2 separate regions of the Homo sapiens genome follow, and region 2 is linked to region 1. Evidence: fine-mapped QTL for protein levels in blood plasma. A gene starts in region 1. The other region holds a variant in brackets. All regions are shown on one strand. Distances are from middle to middle.

Region 1 (5,384 bases):
AGACTACTAGGAAAGTATCAGAAAGACTCAGGAGCCAACCTGAGTAAACTCTCACCGGCCTAAAATAAACAACTTGAGCACTAATAGTGGTAATAGCTACAGTGGATTACAACTCACCAAACTTCTTTAAATCCCTGGATTCATAATGATGGCTGTTTACTTTTGAGGGTTTTTAAAAAAAATCCGGCAGAGATTTTTAAATAGTATATGGTAGTGATCTAATTTTATTTTCCATTAGAATAACCATTCATTCAGCATTACTTATTGAGTAATTAATCATTTTCTCATTAATACATAATGCCAGTATATCAAATTCCCAAATACATAGATATGGGTCTCTTCTTGGGGCTCTGTATCTCCTTCCTTTAATTGTCCATCTTAGGGCGTTTAATAATACAAGACTGTCTCAATTACTATGGCTTTATTGTAACTCATTACCTGGTAGGACAAGACCTTCCAATCTTACTTTTCTTCTTCAAAATTGTTTTAAATACTGTAAATTTTTTTTCTACATAAATGTGAAAAACGTTAGAAGGGCAACTGCAGCAGACATACATAGCTTATTTTTTTAAGATTAACAGCAACTTTATACTAGCAAAATGAAAAAAAATTAACTGAATAAACAGGTAACTGAATTAACTAGCTGTAACACTAGACTACAAAGTTATACAAGATTAAAAGTTATGAGGTACTATTTATTATATGTAAATATTACAAATATTTTTTGTTAAAAATATCTAAGGCTTTTGAGTTTTTGAAATGCAAGCTTTCCCCTATACTTAAGTATATTCATTATCTTACTGCTTTGGTCAGGACAAGAACTGAAAAAGAGAAATAATCTTGAGTTCAGAATGAACAATTCTTGCTATATATATTTTCCCACATGTGTTAGGAATGTTCTGTAAACCTTCCGAGAAATAGTGACTTGAACTAAATACTAAACTACTACCAAGCCCCAGGTGCATTTTTGGAAGTTTTTAGTCATTGGGAGCCATGGCATTTCTTTTCTCTGTATTACAAACTGTTACACTCACTTTCTTTGACTATTAACATTGGAACAGTAGACCTCCTGTTCTGTGACTGACTGGCAGGCAGAAATGACACAGACAGGAAATGGGAAATGGTTCAGGGTCTTGGAATTCCCCCGGCTCCCTAATTAAGTGGCTTGCTATTTGGAAGTTTTTTAAATATTTGCCCCTTGGAGTTCCCCAGAGAGAAGCAAGCATCGGATTCAACGGGCAAAGAGCGTCAACTTCAAAAGTCGTTCGTTGGTTGTCATACCACAAACATTTACTGCACGACACTGTGTCTATGGCACTATTGGGGGAGTATGGCGGGGGGATACAAAAGGTCCATGACTAGCAAAAGCCAAGGGTTTTTATTTACAAATTTTCTATTACCTAAGCATTAAAAAAAATTGGGCTCCTCTCTGGTTTATGTACAATTATATGTGCATGTACACCAATACACAGGCAGACGTATATATTTCATTTTATTGAAACATTCAGAAAATACTGGGAGTGAAGCCTGACTTGCAATACAGTTCTCTTTGCTGGCAATGAGCATCTGAAATAATGACACTTTTTTCTTTAGTGCATATGAACTGTTTGTCTCCAGAACAGAAAACCAAAAGTTTAAAAACAAGATACTCCCGTTGACATCAAGTCTTCAGAATTATTCATCTGATGCTTCCTAGTTTCCAAAGTTTCGCTTTTTTCGATTTGCACAGGCAGCTGTTGAACGCTGATGCTACACAAACGGTTACAATTGTTTACTTAAGCAAAAAATGCCACCAGACTGACTCCATCCTCAAAATGCAGTCATCTGGACGGGGGGAGGCATCACACTTGGGGAGCCTTGCCAGGGGCCAGATCATAACCCTGAGGTGACACAGGGTAGGACGCGCAAAACCACCGGCGCCAGGGCGTTTCCGCAGGGTTTCCCAAAACTCAAACGCAGCGGCTCACGGTTTGCCACGTCCCCCAGGAGAATGGTAGACACAGAGAGGAAATGTGGAGAGGGCACAAACCGCAAGGTGAAGAAAACGAACAAACACCGAGTTGATACGGATAGTCCCCGTTCCCCTGAGGGCCGACCCCGTGACTCCCGATGAGCGTCCAGTTGCGCCGGGCATCCTGGCCTCCCAGCGTCTTTCCCGGAGGTTCATCGCCGCACGGCGGAAAGCGCTCTCGGTTCCGCTTTCCGGCCCCAGCCTCCCGGGCGCCCTCGCGCGGCGGCTAACGCTGGTCCTCGGCCGGGCGCGCTGACGTCATCGTGCGTCAGAGTGAGCCCGGATGGGGCGGCGGGCTTCGGGAGCGCCCGGGCTGATCCGAGCCGAGCGGGCCGTATCTCCTTGTCGGCGCCGCTGATTCCCGGCTCTGCGGAGGCCTCTAGGCAGCCGCGCAGCTTCCGTGTTTGCTGCGCCCGCACTGCGGTGAGTGCTGCTCCTTCCGGGCTCGGGCGGCGTGGGGCGGGTGGGGACGCGAGGGCCCGCGGGGGCCCACTTCCCTGATGTGGCGGCGAACGAGGAAGGACGGGGCCTGAGGCCCTTCGGCCAAGGGTCGAGGGTCGCCGGGGGCTCTCTGCTTTCTACTCTCGCCAAGGTTTTATTGGATTCGGAAGCCCCAACTTCGAGACTTGCAGTCAAAGCGATTTTTAAAATGACTTGTTTTCAAGCCTCTGGCCGCCGCCCACTCTTCTGGCCCTTGGACTTTGACCAAGATGTTTTCTCGCAGTTTTTGCAAGGTTTTAAACTTAGCCCTCGGCGTTCTTTTAATGTAATACATTGAAACGAAGATATTTCGGTGGCGGCGATATTTCATATTTCATAGTTGCCACTGCGCTCTGTCATTCCAGTAGTCGTCTGTTGTGTATTGTGAGAAGCAACTCTGGGAAATTATTGGGTAAATCCCATAGTTTCTATTCTTTTCCCTTCCATCCTATCCCCTGCCCAGCTGCAATTTGCGTAAAGAGAATGCAGCAGTGCGGTGCACGTAGATAAAAATCTTTCATTTAAAGATAGGATATAAGACCGGGTGTAATTAAAGCAATCATGCCAGTGGTCGTAGTGCCGGAGCCACTGTTTCACAGGCCACTGTGTTAGGTTTTGTTTTCGAGTTGCTTTCTGTGGTCGTTGCTTTGAAATTGTAAGGGAATGGCAGAGTTTAAGAGTTTATATTAATGAACTCGTGGTGCATTTTACTGCAGTTTTCCTAGTCGTGGAGAGACTTGATATTACAAACTAACGTTGCTGTCTTAATTCCTGCTGTACTGCTGCTGACAGGGTGTAGTGGAGTGTCTGTCTGTCTTTTTAACCAATGTGCCTTTGCCTCCAGCAGAGTGCCAGAGTTACCTTTAGGCCAGAAAAGGGGAGGAGAGCAAGGACAAAATGTTTCCTGTGTGAAAATTTCCATCTGTCTCTGAAGTTGTGCGTTTTAAAGACACGTATAGTTAGTGCTATGGGGAGTATGTTGCATTTACTTATTTTAATTAATAGCTTTTTCATTTAGAAAGTTGTGACAAATTGCTGGAATTAAGATGTATTATCTAAAGTGTGAATTATTCTTAGACTTTACTGAATAAATTGAAGAGTATGTAAGTTCTATTTGGCATGCACATACAGTTTTCTAAAATACTTTTTGTTTTTTCTTTTCAGATTTACAACCCTGAAGAATCTCCCTATCCCTATTTTGTCCCCCTGCAGTAATAAATCCCATTATGGAGATCTCGAAACTTTATAAAGGGATATAGTTTGAATTCTATGGAGTGTAATTTTGTGTATGAATTATATTTTTAAAACATTGAAGAGTTTTCAGAAAGAAGGCTAGTAGAGTTGATTACTGATACTTTATGCTAAGCAGTACTTTTTTGGTAGTACAATATTTTGTTAGGCGTTTCTGATAACACTAGAAAGGACAAGTTTTATCTTGTGATAAATTGATTAATGTTTACAACATGACTGATAATTATAGCTGAATAGTCCTTAAATGATGAACAGGTTATTTAGTTTTTAAATGCAGTGTAAAAAGTGTGCTGTGGAAATTTTATGGCTAACTAAGTTTATGGAGAAAATACCTTCAGTTGATCAAGAATAATAGTGGTATACAAAGTTAGGAAGAAAGTCAACATGATGCTGCAGGAAATGGAAACAAATACAAATGATATTTAACAAAGATAGAGTTTACAGTTTTTGAACTTTAAGCCAAATTCATTTGACATCAAGCACTATAGCAGGCACAGGTTCAACAAAGCTTGTGGGTATTGACTTCCCCCAAAAGTTGTCAGCTGAAGTAATTTAGCCCACTTAAGTAAATACTATGATGATAAGCTGTGTGAACTTAGCTTTTAAATAGTGTGACCATATGAAGGTTTTAATTACTTTTGTTTATTGGAATAAAATGAGATTTTTTGGGTTGTCATGTTAAAGTGCTTATAGGGAAAGAAGCCTGCATATAATTTTTTACCTTGTGGCATAATCAGTAATTGGTCTGTTATTCAGGCTTCATAGCTTGTAACCAAATATAAATAAAAGGCATAATTTAGGTATTCTATAGTTGCTTAGAATTTTGTTAATATAAATCTCTGTGAAAAATCAAGGAGTTTTAATATTTTCAGAAGTGCATCCACCTTTCAGGGCTTTAAGTTAGTATTACTCAAGATTATGAACAAATAGCACTTAGGTTACCTGAAAGAGTTACTACAACCCCAAAGAGTTGTGTTCTAAGTAGTATCTTGGTAATTCAGAGAGATACTCATCCTACCTGAATATAAACTGAGATAAATCCAGTAAAGAAAGTGTAGTAAATTCTACATAAGAGTCTATCATTGATTTCTTTTTGTGGTAAAAATCTTAGTTCATGTGAAGAAATTTCATGTGAATGTTTTAGCTATCAAACAGTACTGTCACCTACTCATGCACAAAACTGCCTCCCAAAGACTTTTCCCAGGTCCCTCGTATCAAAACATTAAGAGTATAATGGAAGATAGCACGATCTTGTCAGATTGGACAAACAGCAACAAACAAAAAATGAAGTATGACTTTTCCTGTGAACTCTACAGAATGTCTACATATTCAACTTTCCCCGCCGGGGTGCCTGTCTCAGAAAGGAGTCTTGCTCGTGCTGGTTTTTATTATACTGGTGTGAATGACAAGGTCAAATGCTTCTGTTGTGGCCTGATGCTGGATAACTGGAAACTAGGAGACAGTCCTATTCAAAAGCATAAACAGCTATATCCTAGCTGTAGCTTTATTCAGAATCTGGTTTCAGCTAGTCTGGGATCCACCTCTAAGAATACGTCTCCAATGAGAAACAGTTTTGCACATTCATTATCTCCCACCTTGGAACATAGTAGCTTGTTCAGTGGTTCTTACTCCAGCCTTTCTC
Region 2 (5,384 bases), 30 kb after region 1:
CATATGTATTGGAGTATTGCGTTGGAAGATGCTTTCTTTTTAAGCTTGTAAGTAAAGACAGGAATAACTTAAGAGTACCTTATTGCATGACCGTGTAGCAAAATATTTAAAGTCTGGACTTCTACATTGAAACAGATTTGTGTTTAAATTCTAGCTCCAGGCTGGGCGCGGTGGCTCATGCCTGTAATCCCAGCACTTTGGGAGGCCAAGACGGGCGGATCACAAGGTCAGGAAATTGAGACCATCCTGGCTAACACGATGAAACCCCGTCTTGACTAAAAATACAAAAAATTAGCCGGGCATGGTGGCGGATGCCTGTAGTCCCAGCTATTCGGGAGGCTGAGGCAGGAGAATGGCGTGAACCCGGGAGGCAGAGCTTGCAGTGAGCCGAGATCGTGCCCCTGCACTCCAGCCTGGGTGACAGAGCCAGACTCCATCTCAAAAAAAAAAAAAAAAAAATTCCAGTTCTATCAGTTACTAGCTTGGCTATTTATTCAACCAGACATCGGCTTTCTCATCTGTAAAATGGGGATAATAATAGTATGACTCCCATAGGGTTGCTGTAGGAATTAAATGAGATATTGCAAATAAAACACTTTAACACAGCTCCTAGCACGTCAATTTTTTTTTTTTTTTAAGCATTAGGTAGATTGACTTGGGAAGTGGGAGGGACTTGGTGAAAGAAAGGGCCTAAGAAAAGTCAATTTAAGGATTGTTAAGTAGTAATGAAATCCAGCTAAGGTTATATGAAATCACTGTCACCTTAGATTTATGACTTTCTCATACTTTGTATGGGTTGGAAAATAGTATTGAATTACAGATTTGGCAGTGTTAATAGGGGAAAGGGCAAGTAAGGAATACGGAAGATGAGTTAAGGGTGCTAATATAGAGAACTTCATTGAAATACCTGACTGCTACCTAGATTAGAATAGGAGGTTTGAAGCAAAGCCAGGAGATAGCTCTTGTGCAAGTAGAATTGGGAATGACATGGAGATCTTGAAAAGGTGAAGAACAAATTGGTTAGCAGTGAGAGGAATTATTTAGGTAGAAGAAAAAGTTGTCACAGAATGGAATTTTATAGTTTTGAGATTAATAGAGCAGTTCACTTCTAGAGAGATGTAAAAGGGGAAAGAAGATAGGCTTCTGTTTTTATAATTTATTTCTCATTAAACTGGTACTTTGTAGAGATGTACTTTTTAAATTTTTTTGAAAGTCTGAAAATAGACAAATTTTATAATGATTCAGATACCAAAAGAAGGAACTACCATATTCCATAAATATAAATTAACTGTGGAGTTTTATGTGATGCGATATTAAAGGAAAAACATTGGCTTTTTAAAAAAAGGTCAGGCTTGATTCTTAGGTAGTTTTTTTTAATTGCTATAAACATAGACATTTATAAAATAATAATGGTAGTTAACTATGTACCACATATTGTGCCAGATGCTTTACATGTATTATTCAATCCTTACAACTTTGAGGAAGGTACCGTTATGTATATTTTACAGATGAGGAAACTGAGGTGTATGGGGAAGGATGAGGACACATAGCTAGTGAGTGGGCCTAGCCAACACTGGAACCTAGGTCTGTTTTGACTTGGCAACTCAAACCCTACAATACTACAATACCACGTCTTAAGTATGGGGTGTTGAAAAGAACACTGGTCTAGGATGCCTGGTTCTGCAGCTTATTCTTTCTTGTGATCTTAGGCCACTCATTCTTTTCTGAGTCTTTTTTCTCCCTATGTAAAAATGAGAGGCAGTAATACTCGCCTTGTTTAATTGACAGGATCACTGTATCAAATGAGACAAATTACTATGAAAGTGCTTACAAAAGTAAAATGATATAATGGAAATACAAGAGTATTATTATATATGGTGGGGGGAAATTTTTACTGTCTTCTACAAATCTCTTGCAACAAAATAAAGTAAAAGCGGAGTTCTAGGACATGTAAATATATAGACTTAAAAATTAAACAGAGACTTCCTCTGGAAGTTTTCCAAACAACAAACTTACAAATGCAAACAAGTTACTTTGTTCTTTTTTGAACTTTATTTAGTGCCTAAATTGTTTGTAGGGTTGGTTATTAGTGACTATATGAGTATAGTTAAAGGAGTTTAAAATCTAATGGATTTCTTTTTCTTTTTTTAATGAAGATGATTTGTCATTAATTCGGAAGAACAGAATGGCTCTCTTTCAACAATTGACATGTGTGCTTCCTATCCTGGATAATCTTTTAAAGGCCAATGTAATTAATAAACAGGAACATGATATTATTAAACAAAAAACACAGATACCTTTACAAGCGAGAGAACTGATTGATACCATTTTGGTT[A/G]AAGGAAATGCTGCGGCCAACATCTTCAAAAACTGTCTAAAAGAAATTGACTCTACATTGTATAAGAACTTATTTGGTGAGTTTGTTGGGAAAATTATTTTAGAAATTCTTAGGACTGGCCAGATGCGGTGGCTCAGTTTTGTATTTAGTAGAGTAATGGTTTTTATGTTTTCTTTCCTCAGTGGATAAGAATATGAAGTATATTCCAACAGAAGATGTTTCAGGTAAAACAAAGATTTAAAACCAACATGAACTATTACCCTTTTTTTTTAATGAAGTGGAAACAATTTCACTAAAGTTATTTTTTGTTATTAGGTCTGTCACTGGAAGAACAATTGAGGAGGTTGCAAGAAGAACGAACTTGTAAAGTGTGTATGGACAAAGAAGTTTCTGTTGTATTTATTCCTTGTGGTCATCTGGTAGTATGCCAGGAATGTGCCCCTTCTCTAAGAAAATGCCCTATTTGCAGGGGTATAATCAAGGGTACTGTTCGTACATTTCTCTCTTAAAGAAAAATAGTCTATATTTTAACCTGCATAAAAAGGTCTTTAAAATATTGTTGAACACTTGAAGCCATCTAAAGTAAAAAGGGAATTATGAGTTTTTCAATTAGTAACATTCATGTTCTAGTCTGCTTTGGTACTAATAATCTTGTTTCTGAAAAGATGGTATCATATATTTAATCTTAATCTGTTTATTTACAAGGGAAGATTTATGTTTGGTGAACTATATTAGTATGTATGTGTACCTAAGGGAGTAGTGTCACTGCTTGTTATGCATCATTTCAGGAGTTACTGGATTTGTTGTTCTTTCAGAAAGCTTTGAATACTAAATTATAGTGTAGAAAAGAACTGGAAACCAGGAACTCTGGAGTTCATCAGAGTTATGGTGCCGAATTGTCTTTGGTGCTTTTCACTTGTGTTTTAAAATAAGGATTTTTCTCTTATTTCTCCCCCTAGTTTGTGAGAAACATCTCAATAAAGTGCTTTAAAAAGATTGTGTTACCAGAATATTTTTTCTTTCCTGATTTAAAAAGTAATTTTCATGTGTCTTCCTTGTACTCAAATGCCAGCTATTAAGTAAAAAATTGCATTCATGAGAAATTATTAAGTGTTGTTAAAATAATGTTATCTGTGAAATTTCTTTAGATGACAGTGTCTTGTTGCTTTGTATGTTATAGATACAATGTTGGATGAAAAATGAATCCAACATTAATTTCAGAAAACTCTTAAATTAGATAAATAGGCATTATTTTCAGACAGTAGTGTAATTGCTTTGTTGCATAGGTGTTGATGGGGTGAGGAGGCATACAGGCAATGAATGGTTAGTACCTCCTTTCTGGGTCCAGTCATATTTGACCTTTCTTAGATCTCACTCTGTGGCAGACTTCTGAAGCCAGGTAGATAAGGAAGTCTAATAGTAAAAACTCTCCATTTTTCTTCTCACCTCACAACTCTTTTGGATTCCTTTAGAGAACACATGGGAAGAGTGAGTAAGAATTTCTGTGTACCCCAGTCTCTTCTCTTGCCTTTGTTTCCATCCTGATATGCTGATACATGTATGTAAGTCCAAATGCATATACCTAGGTTCAAGACCTCATGAGAGAAACTCTCTCCGGCCATTATGGAGGGAATATAAAGAGGGAATTCTTTCCTCCCCCTCAAATTCAGTAGACTCAGAACAATGTTAAAACGTTAACTTTTCTCTGCCTCTCATCCTGGACTTGTGATTGCCAAAGGGATAATTAGCTCCGTCAAGGAATCAAATTAGAAGTCCTTTAGTCAGAACAGCCCAATATGTCTTAAGTCATAAAACTAATCCCCCTTGTTGTCACAGGATACTATTACATCTTTTTAAAAACTATTCTCTTTTTTCTTATTTTGCTTATAATAGCTACTCTATCAAGGATCCCATTTGCCAGATACAGTGCTAAATGCGTTAAACAATTGAGATGTGCTGTAGGTTCAGTTGTGTTCCCCGCAAATTTGTATGTTGAAGTCCTAATTGCCAGTACCTCAGAATGTACCTGTATTTGGAAATAGGGTTGTTAAAAGAGGCAAATAAGGTAAAATGAGATGATATAGTTGACTGCTAATCAACATGATTGGTGTTCTCTAAGAAAAGGGGATTAGGATACAGATGCACAGAGGAGTGACTATGTGAAGACACCCGAGGAAGAGGCCTCAGAAGAATCCAAACCTGCCAACACCTTGATCTTGGACTTCTAGCTTCCAGAACTGTAAGAAAATAAATTTCTGTTGTTTAAGCCACCCAGTCATTGGTACTTTGTTGTGGCAGCCTTAGCCAAGTAATACAAACTGCCGTTAATAGATACTTTAAAGCACATCGGCTCTGATCCTTTCAGCAATTTTGCAAAGTAAGATTTGAACACAGATCTGCCTGGCTCCTTAGCTTGTGCTTTTTTAACAAACTGTCCTAATAAGCTATACTTACATTTTTAAAAGTTAACATGGGCTGCCATCTAGTATAACTGTAGCAACTTATGATTTTTATCTATTTATAAAAGAGTTACCTTATTTGGCTTTATTCAGCTAGTCAGTTTAAAGACGTCTGTGTTTTTCACATTCAGTAAAAATAATGCAAAAAATATAACTAAACATAGTGTAATTTATACTTTATCTGCTTGCAAACTTCTCAAATGGACCTGGATTTGAGATTAGGGTTTTAGTCTCTTATCTTTTTTGCCCTCTTAATGATGATAATCAGTGTCCTAGCAGGTGCTCATTATGTTGAGCAGACAGATGAATGTCAGATGCTTTGTTAGGTTTTTTATTGCCTTCCATAATCCTTAAAACTGTAGGAAACATGTTATCTCTTTTTTATAATACAAATGTGGAAATTGAGGCCCAGTGAAACCATGTAATTTGCTAGAGATAACAAGTGGTAGAGTGTGAATTGTATACAGTCCAGGTGGAAGTGGCTCCAGAACATTTACATTTTTTTTTTTAAATCTCTTGCTAAACCATACTTCAGTTTTTGTTTGTTTGTTTTTGAGATGGAGTCTCATTCTTGTTGCCCAGGCTGGAGT

Direction of the effects. Positions count from the first base shown, and alleles are read on the strand shown. Strength reflects both the effect of a copy and how common the allele is.
For the plasma level of the protein whose gene starts at base 2,272 in region 1, G is the low allele of the variant in region 2 and A is the other (weak association).

Evidence for each region. PIP is the chance, under the fine-mapping model, that this variant and not a neighbour inherited with it causes the effect. The UK Biobank Pharma Proteomics Project read protein levels with antibody pairs (Olink). The fine-mapping took linkage between variants from a reference panel, not from the people measured, so its PIPs are less certain.
Region 2: its variant is fine-mapped to the plasma level of the BIRC2 protein (UK Biobank, PIP above 0.99). The variant lies in the coding sequence of BIRC2. If it changes the protein, the assay may bind it differently, which can mimic a change of level.

What each region holds. Positions count from the first base shown.
Region 1 is chr11:102,344,943-102,350,326 of GRCh38, forward strand. It overlaps BIRC2 (baculoviral IAP repeat containing 2), which reads left to right and starts at 2,272. Exons shown (of 9, transcript NM_001166.5): 1 at 2,272-2,434; 2 at 3,656-5,384. The coding sequence starts at 4,913. RefSeq lists an enhancer at 2,824-2,893.
Region 2 is chr11:102,375,340-102,380,723 of GRCh38, forward strand. It overlaps BIRC2 (baculoviral IAP repeat containing 2), which reads left to right. Exons shown (of 9, transcript NM_001166.5): 7 at 2,157-2,411; 8 at 2,518-2,559; 9 at 2,651-3,331. The coding sequence ends at 2,844. Among named protein-coding and RNA genes, the nearest start is that of BIRC2, 31 kb to the left of the region's middle. RefSeq lists an enhancer at 1-201. The variant A/G (reference allele first, on the strand shown) is at 2,336.